Linked DNA regions of Homo sapiens: region 1 is linked to region 2. Evidence: fine-mapped expression QTL. A gene starts in region 2. The other region holds a variant in brackets. All regions are shown on one strand. Distances are between the middles of the regions. Region 1 overlaps ATP13A5 (ATPase 13A5). Region 2 holds the start of ATP13A5 (ATPase 13A5).

Evidence for each region. PIP is the estimated chance that this variant, and not a neighbour inherited with it, causes the effect. A credible set is the group of variants that fine-mapping cannot tell apart.
Region 1: its variant is the best candidate, but not a certain one, in a credible set for the expression of ATP13A5 in nasal epithelium (TOPMed, PIP 0.63).

Annotation. Positions count from the first base shown.
Region 1 is chr3:193,332,304-193,337,692 of GRCh38, reverse strand. ATP13A5 (ATPase 13A5) reads left to right here. Exons shown (of 30, transcript NM_198505.4): 10 at 2,594-2,764; 11 at 3,786-3,943. Among named protein-coding and RNA genes, the nearest start is that of ATP13A5-AS1, 28 kb to the right of the region's middle. The variant C/T (reference allele first, on the strand shown) is at 2,713.
Region 2 is chr3:193,375,389-193,380,777 of GRCh38, reverse strand. ATP13A5 (ATPase 13A5) reads left to right here and starts at 2,025. Exons shown (of 30, transcript NM_198505.4): 1 at 2,025-2,115. The coding sequence starts at 2,053.

The DNA.
Region 1 (5,389 bases), 43 kb after region 2:
AAGCCAAAATAATGAAGCTGGAGGCATCATGCTACCTGACTTCAAACTATACTACAAGGCTACAGTAATCAAAACAGTGTGGTACTGGTACCAAAACAGAGACATAGACCAATGGAAAAGAACAGAGCCCTCAGAAAGAATACCACACATCTACAACCATCTGACAAACCTGACAAAAACAAGAAATGGGGAAAAGATTCCCTATTTAATAAATGGTGCTGGGAAAACTGGCTAGCCATATGTAGAAAGCTGAAATTGGATCCCTTCCTTACACCTTATACAAAAATTAATTCAAGATGGATTAAAGACTTAAATGTTAGACCTAAAACCATAAAAACCCTAGAAGAAAACCTAGGCAATACCATTCAGGACATAGGCATGGGCAACGACTTCATGTCTAAAACACCAAAAGCAATGGCAACAAAAGCCAAAATTGACAAATGAGATCTAATTAAACTAAAGAGCTTCTGCACAGCAAAAGAAACTACCGTCAGAGTGAACAGACAACCTAGAGAATGGGAGAAAATTTTTGCAACCTACTCATCTGACAAAGGGCTAATATCCAGAATCTACAAAGAACGCCAACAAATTTACAAGAAAAAAACAAACAACCCCATCAAAAAGTGGGCGAAGGATATGAACAGACACTTCTCAAAAGAAGACATTTATGCAGCCAAAAGACACATGAAAAAATGCTCATCATCACTGGCCATCAGAGAAATGCAAATCAAAACCACAATGAGACACCATCTCACACCAGTTAGAATGGCAATCATTAAAAAGTCAGGAAACAACAGGTGCTGGAGAGGATGTGGAGAAATAGGAACACTTTTACACTGTTGGTGGGACTGTAAACTAGTTCAACCATTGTGGAAGACAATGTGGCGATTCCTCAAGGATCTAGAACTAGAAATACCATTTGACCCAGCCATCCCATTACTGGGTATATACCCAAAGGATTATAAATCATGCTGCTATAAAGACACATGCACACGTATGTTTATTGTGGCACTATTCACAATAGCAAAGACTTGGAACCAACCCAAGTGCCCATCAATGATAGAATGGATTAAGAAAATGTGGCACATATACACCATGGAATACTATGCAGCCATAAAAACGGATGAGTTCATGTCCTTTGTAGAGACATGGATGAAGCTGGAAACCATCATTCTCAGCAACTATCTCAAGGACAAAAAATCAAACACCACATGTTCTCACTCATAGGTGGGAATTGAACAGTGAGAACACTTGGACACAGGAAGGGGAACATCACACACCGGGGCCTGTCGTGAGGTGGGGGGAGTGGGGAGGGATAGCATTAGGAGATACACCTAATGTAAATTATGATTTAATGGGTGCAGCACACCAGCATGGCACATGTATACATATGTAACAAACCTGCATGTTGTGCACATGTACCCTAGAATATAAAGTAGAATAAAATAAAAAGAAAAAACTATGTGTTTTGAACCTATTACATATCACTAGGAAAATGAAGAGTATACAAATTTATATATGTCAAAGTTCTTGTTCCCAGTTATGACCTAGAAAGAGAGATGAGACCTAAATTTGTATAACTATGATTGATATAATACTATTTCCAAATTAGAAATATGACAAGTTATCTTGCTAATTGAACATTTAGTAAAAGACTGATGGAATTTTAAATTCATTCTAATACTCTTTAAATCTTGGAGCCAAAAATTATTATTAACATCTTTATTTTGTCTCTGAAATGTATCCTTTTTGAACTCTGAGCTGATTTCTTTGTACCTTAAATATTCTGTCTTATAGCCACCAGGGAAAGGAAAAAAATTGCTACCTGCAAAGAATGGGGGCCAATAAAAGGAAATGCAAGTGGCCTAGTTGAGCTGGAGCTTTTGTAGGGGAATGTCAGGCAATGATGTTTGAATCATGGTAGGCTTTGACAATCTAGCAGGAGAGTTTGGTCTTTATTCAGTAGTGGCAATGGAAAAGGCTAACGATTTTGAGCAAAAGAATGAGATGATAAAAATGGGACTTGGATGGGATCCATCTGAAAATGATGTGGAATAACTACTATTTTCTCACCTTGCTCCATGAGCTTATGAGGGCAAGATTTCTGTCTCTCTTGTTCATCATATTCCTAGCACCTAGCACAGTTCCTGGAACAGAATAAGCACCTAAAATAGCTGAATGAATGGGTGAATGAATAAACAAATGAATAAATGAGTGAATGCAAAGCAAATAGTAATTACTATTCACGTGCTGGAAAGCTCCTTCATTGCCTAAAATAGTGCTGGGCTTAATGAATGCTTGGGAGAATGATTCAGTGATAACTCATCTATAATAGGCTGCTTTTAAAATTATGACAACAAACCATGCAGGCCAGGTATAGGATAGATAGGCAGATCTAATCTAAATATTTGCAATAGAATCAAGTCTACCATTGCTTGTACCACCAGCATCTCTATGAACAGTCATCTGACTCATGGGATGGGCATTAAGACCGGATTAGTTGTGGTTTGTATAATTTCTTGAAACTGGCATGCACCAGTTCTGACCAACTACCTGAGCTTACATAGATTCAACAAAATACAATCCTCTTTAGGAGAAAGTATACCTGTTACAAAGACACCATTGCCCCAGATGGAGAACACTATGCCTTGGAAATGTCACAGTTTGGAGGATTATAGGAAACACGTCCTTTTCTGTGGAACAGAAGTTATC[C/T]AGGTCAAGCCCTCTGGGCAGGGGCCTGTACGAGCAGTCGTTTTGCAAACAGGTTAGTGGATTCCACTTTTGTAAGTTTAATTCATGCTTGAACATGGGGAGAGTTGGATTAGGGAAATTTAGTTTAGGATTATGGAGTCTGCCACATTCTGGTAGTAACAACATGCTTTTTTCCAAACAGACACTTATTATTCTAAAGTGTCACTATTTTTAATTAAATGGTTTATTGGTAAAACCCTTCTATGTGATGAAGGGTATGTGTAGGTGAAGTAAAATTTGTCAAAGGTAAAACTATGCTCTTCTTTTTGCTTGTGACCATACGCTGCTTCTATCTCCCTTGACACCTCCTCTGAGTGATTACCAAAAAACAATTTCAGCCACCACGACTATGAGGATTTTTTCCTTTCAAAGAGTTGCTTGCTAGGCTGTATGTCAAATTCAGTAATAAAGAACTCCACCTGGGTGCCCTATAGACCAGTTAAAGCCAACGAATCTGAAACTATTCATCCTCCTGTATTGACTTTCTCTGTTAATATCATCACCATCATGCTGGTCTCTTAATAACATCTCCAACTCCTCTTGTTTCCCATACCAAATGTGGCACCAAATCTGGATGATTCCGCAAACACTTCCTGAGTCCCAGTCTTTTACATGACGTGACACAATGAAGGCCTCCTATGACCTGGTCCTAGCTCTCTGTTCTAACCTCTGACCTCTGTTTCTGCCACCCGACTTATTCACAGATGCAAAATACACTTTACACTGTGATACCTGCATGCTTTAGTTTGGTTTATGATTTAGTTGTTCTAGCTGATTTTTTAAAATTAAAAATATCTAATTTTTTTAAATGTTCAAACTAGTTAGCAGGCACTAGACACTAGAGCATTGCTCAGCCTGTGGCCTACATGGAAGCTCATGGTTAAAAATCATGAAAACCACCTGAAAACTTATAAAATGATTAGGTAGAAGGTTAGAGGACACTCTACTCTTTTCCTCAAAGACAGTAAAGCCATTTTTAGGAGACCAAGTGTCCATCAAGCAGCCTTACTTGATCTATGATTATCTTTATGTAGGTTACAATACAGCCAAAGGGGACTTAGTGAGATCCATCCTGTACCCCCGGCCTCTGAACTTCAAACTATACAGCGATGCCTTCAAGTTCATCGTGTTCCTGGCCTGCCTTGGTGTCATGGGTTTTTTCTATGCCCTAGGGGTATATATGTACCATGGAGTAAGTACTGGGGGTAAGGCTTTTCAATAGTATAGATTCTGCAAAGAGCTTGACCTAACTCAGAGGATTGGTTTAGGTTACATCTTGATCCCATCATTCTGTGAATCATTACTGTCCAAAAGAGCTTCTTAGACAGCGGAAATGTTCTCATGCCTAGTTTGCCCCCAGTGTTTAGGTAATATCTAAAACACTATGCAATCAGTGGGTTTCCCATGTGTTCTGGTTAGGGTCTGAAATGAAGTTAATTTCCACTTTTACAGAGCTGGTACTGCATGAGATACCTACTTCCCTTTAAGCTACAGGGTGTCAGGTTTCATTTGGATGCTCCTTGTCATAGCCTGGTGGCTAGGGAGGGAAGGGTTGTCACTAAAGACCTCTGAGGTCCTTTCTGGTCCTGAGAGTCTGATTTTGCTGTGAACCAGAAAATAAGAAAGTCTGGGATCATAACAGTGTGAGCTGGTGGGGAGGAAGAGAAAATTGTGAATAAAACATCCAAACAGGTGAAAAACTGTGAGTGGCTTAATTACAATGTCCAAATTGGTGGCATCAATGAGCGTGTGTGTGTGTGTGTGTGTGTTTGTGTGTGTGTGTTTGTGTGTGTGTGTGTGTGAGAGAGAGAGAGGTGGGCAGTGAATATTGGTGGGAAAAGACATAGTAACAAGAATTTCAAGGCAATGTTCACGCCAAAACTTAACTGCTGAGTAGTTATTTCAATCTGAAATAGCTCCCAGGGAGCATTTCTGGGTCAAGAGAGGCCCACGATGGGGCCTGTGAAGAGCTAGGCAGAATGTCAAGGTCACTGGGGCTGGAATTTGAGGGAGTATGCCAATTTAATCTGGGGAGCTGGAGCATTGGGCAGAAAAGCAGGAAAAAAGCTCATGGAAGCCCTGGCAGTATTTGAGAATGAGGTTTCCTGGGAAGAACTTAACATCCAATACACACTGAGGCAACAAGACTAATAATCCCAGACCCCAACTTCTTGTGGGTCAGAACCTGTGGCTCTGTTGGCTGCCTCTATCTGCACTGGTTCAGCGCTAGACAAGGCTGAGTCCTTAGGGTCAAAACTCTTCCGTGTCTGTGGTTGGGAAAAGAAGGGAGTAATGAATTTTGTGATAAATTGATATTGGGCAAAAGATGTCCCAGCAGACATTGCTACTGAACTTGAATCCCATGTTTCCAATACTTAAAAAAGTATTTATGGCTAAAATGATGGTTAATTTAACAAAAACATAGGTGAGGTTCTAGAGGGTAGAATCATTAATATCTAGAGCATGTGAGGAAAACAAAACAATCAATCAGTCAACCCTGTGATTTGACCTCATCCCTGACCTTAATTGTGTGAGCCTCCTCTGGAGACCTGCTGTATTAGTCTGTTCTCATGCTGCTAATAAAGACATACCTGAGACTGGGCAATTTATAAAGGAAAGAGGTTTAAGAGACTCACAG
Region 2 (5,389 bases):
CACTTCCTTTGGGAACCTGTTTGTATTCCATTAAATCTGAGTTTAGTATATTTCCCAATTAAGAGGCTGCTTAGTTATCTGTCATTCCCAAGTAACTATAAACTCTCTCAGGATAGGGGCTCTTTCCTTTACACCATTGTATTCGAGGGCCTAGCACAATGTCTGGAACATCTGTTTTCCAGTACATAATTGTTGAGTAAAAGTGGAATGGAGTCAAGACCAGTGCTATGTATATCTTTGGACTATATGTAACAGAAAACCCAAGCAAGAGTGGCTTTATGAGAATGTTTAATTGTGTATTTAATGTGGTGTTTAGGGGTAGGTAGGTCCATGAATCAGTGGTGTTATAGGCATATAACTTCTTTTGTCCTTTTCTCACCGTAATTTTCATGGTGATTTGCATCCTCCTCACCACCTAAAGATGGCTACCATGCTCCAAGCATTGCATTTTCATGGATCACTTTCAAAGAAAGGCAGAAAGGGGAAGACAGAAAAAAATGTTCTTCTCTCTGTTTCATCAACAAGATAACCTTTCCCACAAGACCATGTCTTTCTCTTCTATTTCATTGTTTAGAACTGGGCCACACGCCGACCCATAGACAAATCATTGACTCATCTTGGTGCTTTTAGCTGAAGTCATGCTGCACAAAGTTGGGGTTCTTTCAGCAAGAAATACAAGTAAATAGCGGATGGGTAAGAAGTGAATGATAGCCACCACTCGTGTCTTTAATGAAGTTTTACTAAAATCCAGAACTCCTTTCTTCAAATATGCATTTTACCTTAGATTGGTACTACTTACAAGGCAACATTCACACCGGCACATTATACTTCAGTATGGGTACCTCGGGAGCCTCTGGCATGAAGAGCTCTAGTTGTCTTCCTGTTTATTCTCATCAGCCACTTTCTCCTGGCCAGAGAGCACGTTGATCTCTCCTGAACACCAAGTTGGACACTTATGCCTGCTCAAGGCAATCAGTGTCTATTTCAGTCAGCAGAAACAGCCAAGTATCATCCCTAATAGTTTTCATTCCCAGCAAATTTTCTTCCATAGTCAAAGTGCAAGGATACAATAAGAGCCAATAAAATGACAAAAGTTTTCATCACAAACAAATTAACTGACTCTGGAATGGATCACAGTATACCTATTTTCTAATCAAAATATCAAATTCAGTGGTGTTGAAATTTGGGCTATATCCTTAATCCTCGGACTTTCTAGCATCTCTTCCCTCCACATACTTTGCTCATTTGAAAACTTTTGTAAACTCTAAAGAGAAAATGAAAAGAATCAAGTTATTAATATAGTTTACTTTTTAAAGCCTCTTTCTTCTTGGTTAGTGTAATGATTATGATGATGATTATTTCTCTCTTAGTGACTGTGGTGGGTGCTATCGTTGGCTTTTTATGACTATCATCTTAAATCTTTATATTACTGTATAGTTATTATTGACATTTTATGTACTAGAAACTGAAATTCCAGATTTTAAGTGATTTGTCCAGGGTCTTCAGTGAAGCACGGATTAGAACTCAGATTTTTCTAATTCCAAAATGATTCCTACATTCTCTATCATGAGCCTACCTCCCTTCCTTCAATTCTCATTGTCACCCCCAATATGTTCATTACTTTTTCAAAGTCTGCAGGGTTTTTATACATCTCTCACTGGCTAATCCTTTTATCTTAGGTTTTTAGCAAAGTGACTATTCTCATTCCTTGGCTGAGACATTTATGGATCGCATACAAAATGATTTCTCCTTCTAGTTTGCCAACTTCTTCCCCCGTCATTCCTCAGGTCTTGAGGCACTCATATCTAGCTCAATAAACAAACACTAGGAAAAAAACCCACAATAACCAGATTAACAGACCAATCCTGTTCCTGAGAAGATTTTCTCTCTTTCCTTTGTTAGTCTAATAGGCAAGGTGTGTACTAAGAGATTTTAAAAGCGCCTGGGAAGAGCAATCACAAGTTGTGACGATTCCAAGTTCACAGAAGCCCAAGGGATTTTGACATTTCTCCAAGGAGTTAGCCAGAAGAGATCCTCGCCGGTTGAGTTCAGATGGAAGAGAACAGTAAGAAGGACCATCGGGCTTTGCTCAACCAGGGAGAGGAGGATGAACTGGTGAGTCTTCCCTTTATTTTATTAGTCTTCTCAAAGAGCCCAAGGCGGTGAGTATGGGCTACAGCTGAATTAGAAAATAGAGTGTAGCATTTATGCTTCAGGCTTTAGGACCTTGAAAGGTTTCAGTCTGGTAAGGTTCCTTAAGGGCTGCAAAGCACCATTTTATTGTGGGGAAACCTGCAGGGGCTGAGAAACTTGTGACCTCTGGATGATAGAATTCTTGCCATCTTCATATGAACCTGTGATGTTTCCTCGCACATTTACAGTATTTGCAGAGCCCCGCATGGTGCTCAGTGGGGTGTCTCCCCCTTATTATCTGGATTGCTATGTGATGGAACAAACTCTATTGAAAACAAGAACTCTTTTTTATTCTCGTGCTTTGGGTATGTATGCATAACCTAGGCTTAGGGGGCTCTGGGCTGAAGTCATGCTTTTTATAAGCGCAGAGAGAAGTTTTAAGCATCAATTACTAAAGAAGGAGTAGAATGTGGCCTGGGATTTTTAACACATATTTTAAACATTTCTCATGTCTCCAATTTTTTCCCCACTCTTGTTTTCATCAAACACACACACACACACACACACACATTTAAAAATAATAATTAAAAAGTTGAAAACTATAGTGTTTATTTGGTGCTGAGGTGTTTATATTTATGATTTTATATAATCCTCAGACCTCAGTGATGAAAGAACTAATCCTATTTAATTGAAAAGAAATCTGAGACCAGGGAGGTTAAATAACTTGCCCAAGGTCATTAGCCTGCAAGGGACAGGCTGGGAATCCAGCCGACTCCTTCTCCACATCCTGTGCTGTTCACCATACAACAGTGGCTCCAGCTAGACAATGAAGAAAGGAGACAGAGACAGACAGGGGAAGGGTCAGAGTGAGGGCACATTTGGGGGCCCCAAAGAACTTGGAGAACATGGTTTGTAGATTAGAATGATGTCAGTTTCCTGGCTGGCATCCTGGTTCCCTGTGAGATCTGGGGCAAATCCATACCGGCTCTCCCTCCACCTATCCCTGTTTGCTACTCTAAGGAAAACATATGATTTCATCTACATCTATGTTGTTCAATAAGGCAGCCATGGGCCACGTGTAGTTTCTGAGCACTAGAAAAGTAGCTAGTCCACACAAAATATGCTTTATGTGTAAAATACGCACCAGATTTTGAAGAATTTAGTAAAAAAAAGTAAAACATCTTATTAATAATTTTTATATTGTTTACACATTGAAATGACAATATTTTAGATAGCTTAGGTAAAAATTTCACCTGCTTCTCTTTACATCTTTAATGTGGCTGCTAGGAACGTTAATATTAAGAAGGCAGCTCATATTTGTGGCTTGCATTATTGTAGCACGCTAAGCTTGACAATAGCACAGCACTTTAAAATCTTCAGAATTAAAGCTTTTAAAGAATGAAAATCTATTCACCTGTGTTCACTGCTGAACAATTCTGTTAGCTCTGATGTTTTCAACATGTAGATAAGAGTGCATGAAAAATTACATTGCTCTTTATTCTTCTCTAACTAGTTGCTTTATTTGTAAAGTTTATAGCCTGATACTTTAATTCTCTCACTCACAAACAGGACATTGGTATCATAGGATTAAATAATGAGCCAGGTGCCCCAGTTTTCTTCATTTTTGCAGGTGATCAAACCCTTTTACAGACACTCACCAGAAATGTCTATTAGGAATCCAAGTAAGCTTAACTCATTGTGGGGAAGGGGAGATGGCTCTAGATTTCTTTTTCAGAATTCTGGGGCGTAGAGCACAGATGCAAATCCTATTCTGGTTGATCAGGTAATCCACAGACTCCGCTAGGCCTGAGGGAGCTGGGGTGACCGAACTGTGGAAGCTGTGACTTAGCTCCAGGCAATTGCTGAACTGATCTTGCAATTGCTAGCCTTTTAGAAGGAAGCCGGATGGGGAACAACACATACTGGGGCCTATCAGAAGGTGGGAGATGGGAGAAGGGAGAGCATCAGGAAGAATAGCTAATGGATGCTGGGCTTAACACCTAGGTGATGGGTCAATCTGTGTGGCAAACCACTATGGCACACTTTTACCTAAGTATCAAACCTGCACATCCTGCGCATGTACCCCTGAACTTAAAATAAAAGTTGGAAATTAAAAAAAGAAAAGAGACCCCTGGCCAGGCATGGTGGCTCATGCCTGTAATCCCAGCACTTTGGGAGGCTAAGGTGGGAAGATCTCTTGAGGCCAGAAGTTCAAGACCAGTCTGGTTAACATAGCAAAAGCCTGTTTTTCTTATAAATAAAAGAAAAGAGAACCTAGAGATCTCCCTTGTCCCTTCTACCATGTGAGGGCACAGAGAAAAGATGGCAGTCTATGCACCAGAAGGAGGGTCCTCATCAGACACTGGATCTGCCAGCACCTTGATCTTGGACTTCCCAGACTCTAGAAATAGATGTTTTTAAATCTAAAAGGTAAAAAATAAATAAATCGAGGGAAGCCAGAAATCTGACTTTTTATGTGATGTAGCCTGATGATAAATTTTGAAAACAAATTCATCTTTTGAAAACAATCAGTAGGTCAAAGTAAACCTGGGCATGGTTTAGTCCCAGCCTTGGGGGCTGTCGCTCTCTGATGTTGACAGCCTCGCCCCACTTGCTCTTCCTTCCCCGAAGATTCCCTGTGGCCCGGTCTAACTTCTACTCGCATTCATTATTTCAAGTGAACAATCCGTTGTGATCGTGAGAGTCACTGTGGTAAAAATTAGAGACAGTCGAGGCAAATAATGAACTCCTTCAATCAAACACCCATGAAGAGCCTAAGTGGATGGAGGGGCGATGCTGTGAGATTATGCAAGCTCAGTCTTGCGTGATTCTGCTGAGCTCAGCATGGAGATAAAGCCTTGCACTGGCCTCTAGAGCTGAACCCTGTTATCATTCCCATCTCCTGTTCTCATCCTGGTAGTGCTTACTGTCCTGGGCATGGTGCGGTACTAGGTGCTTGACACACAGGTTTTCATTTTACCCAAAACTTTACAACAGCCCTGCAATCAATATTCTCACTGTACAGGTCTTTATTGTTTTTTCCAACCTACTCCCATCCACTTCCCACCCTCCTCACTACTATCTAGCTCTAATAGGTTCCTTTTCTTCACCTGCCTTTTTCCTAAAAATCTGCCCTGCCCAGGTGTTTCCCTCAGCCTCTCCCTTTGCAGTCAGTTTTTCTTGTCTTCTCCAGAGGTCTCAGGACCCATAGCTTCACTAAGAGCCCACAGGAGCCTTCAAAACATAAGACCCGAAA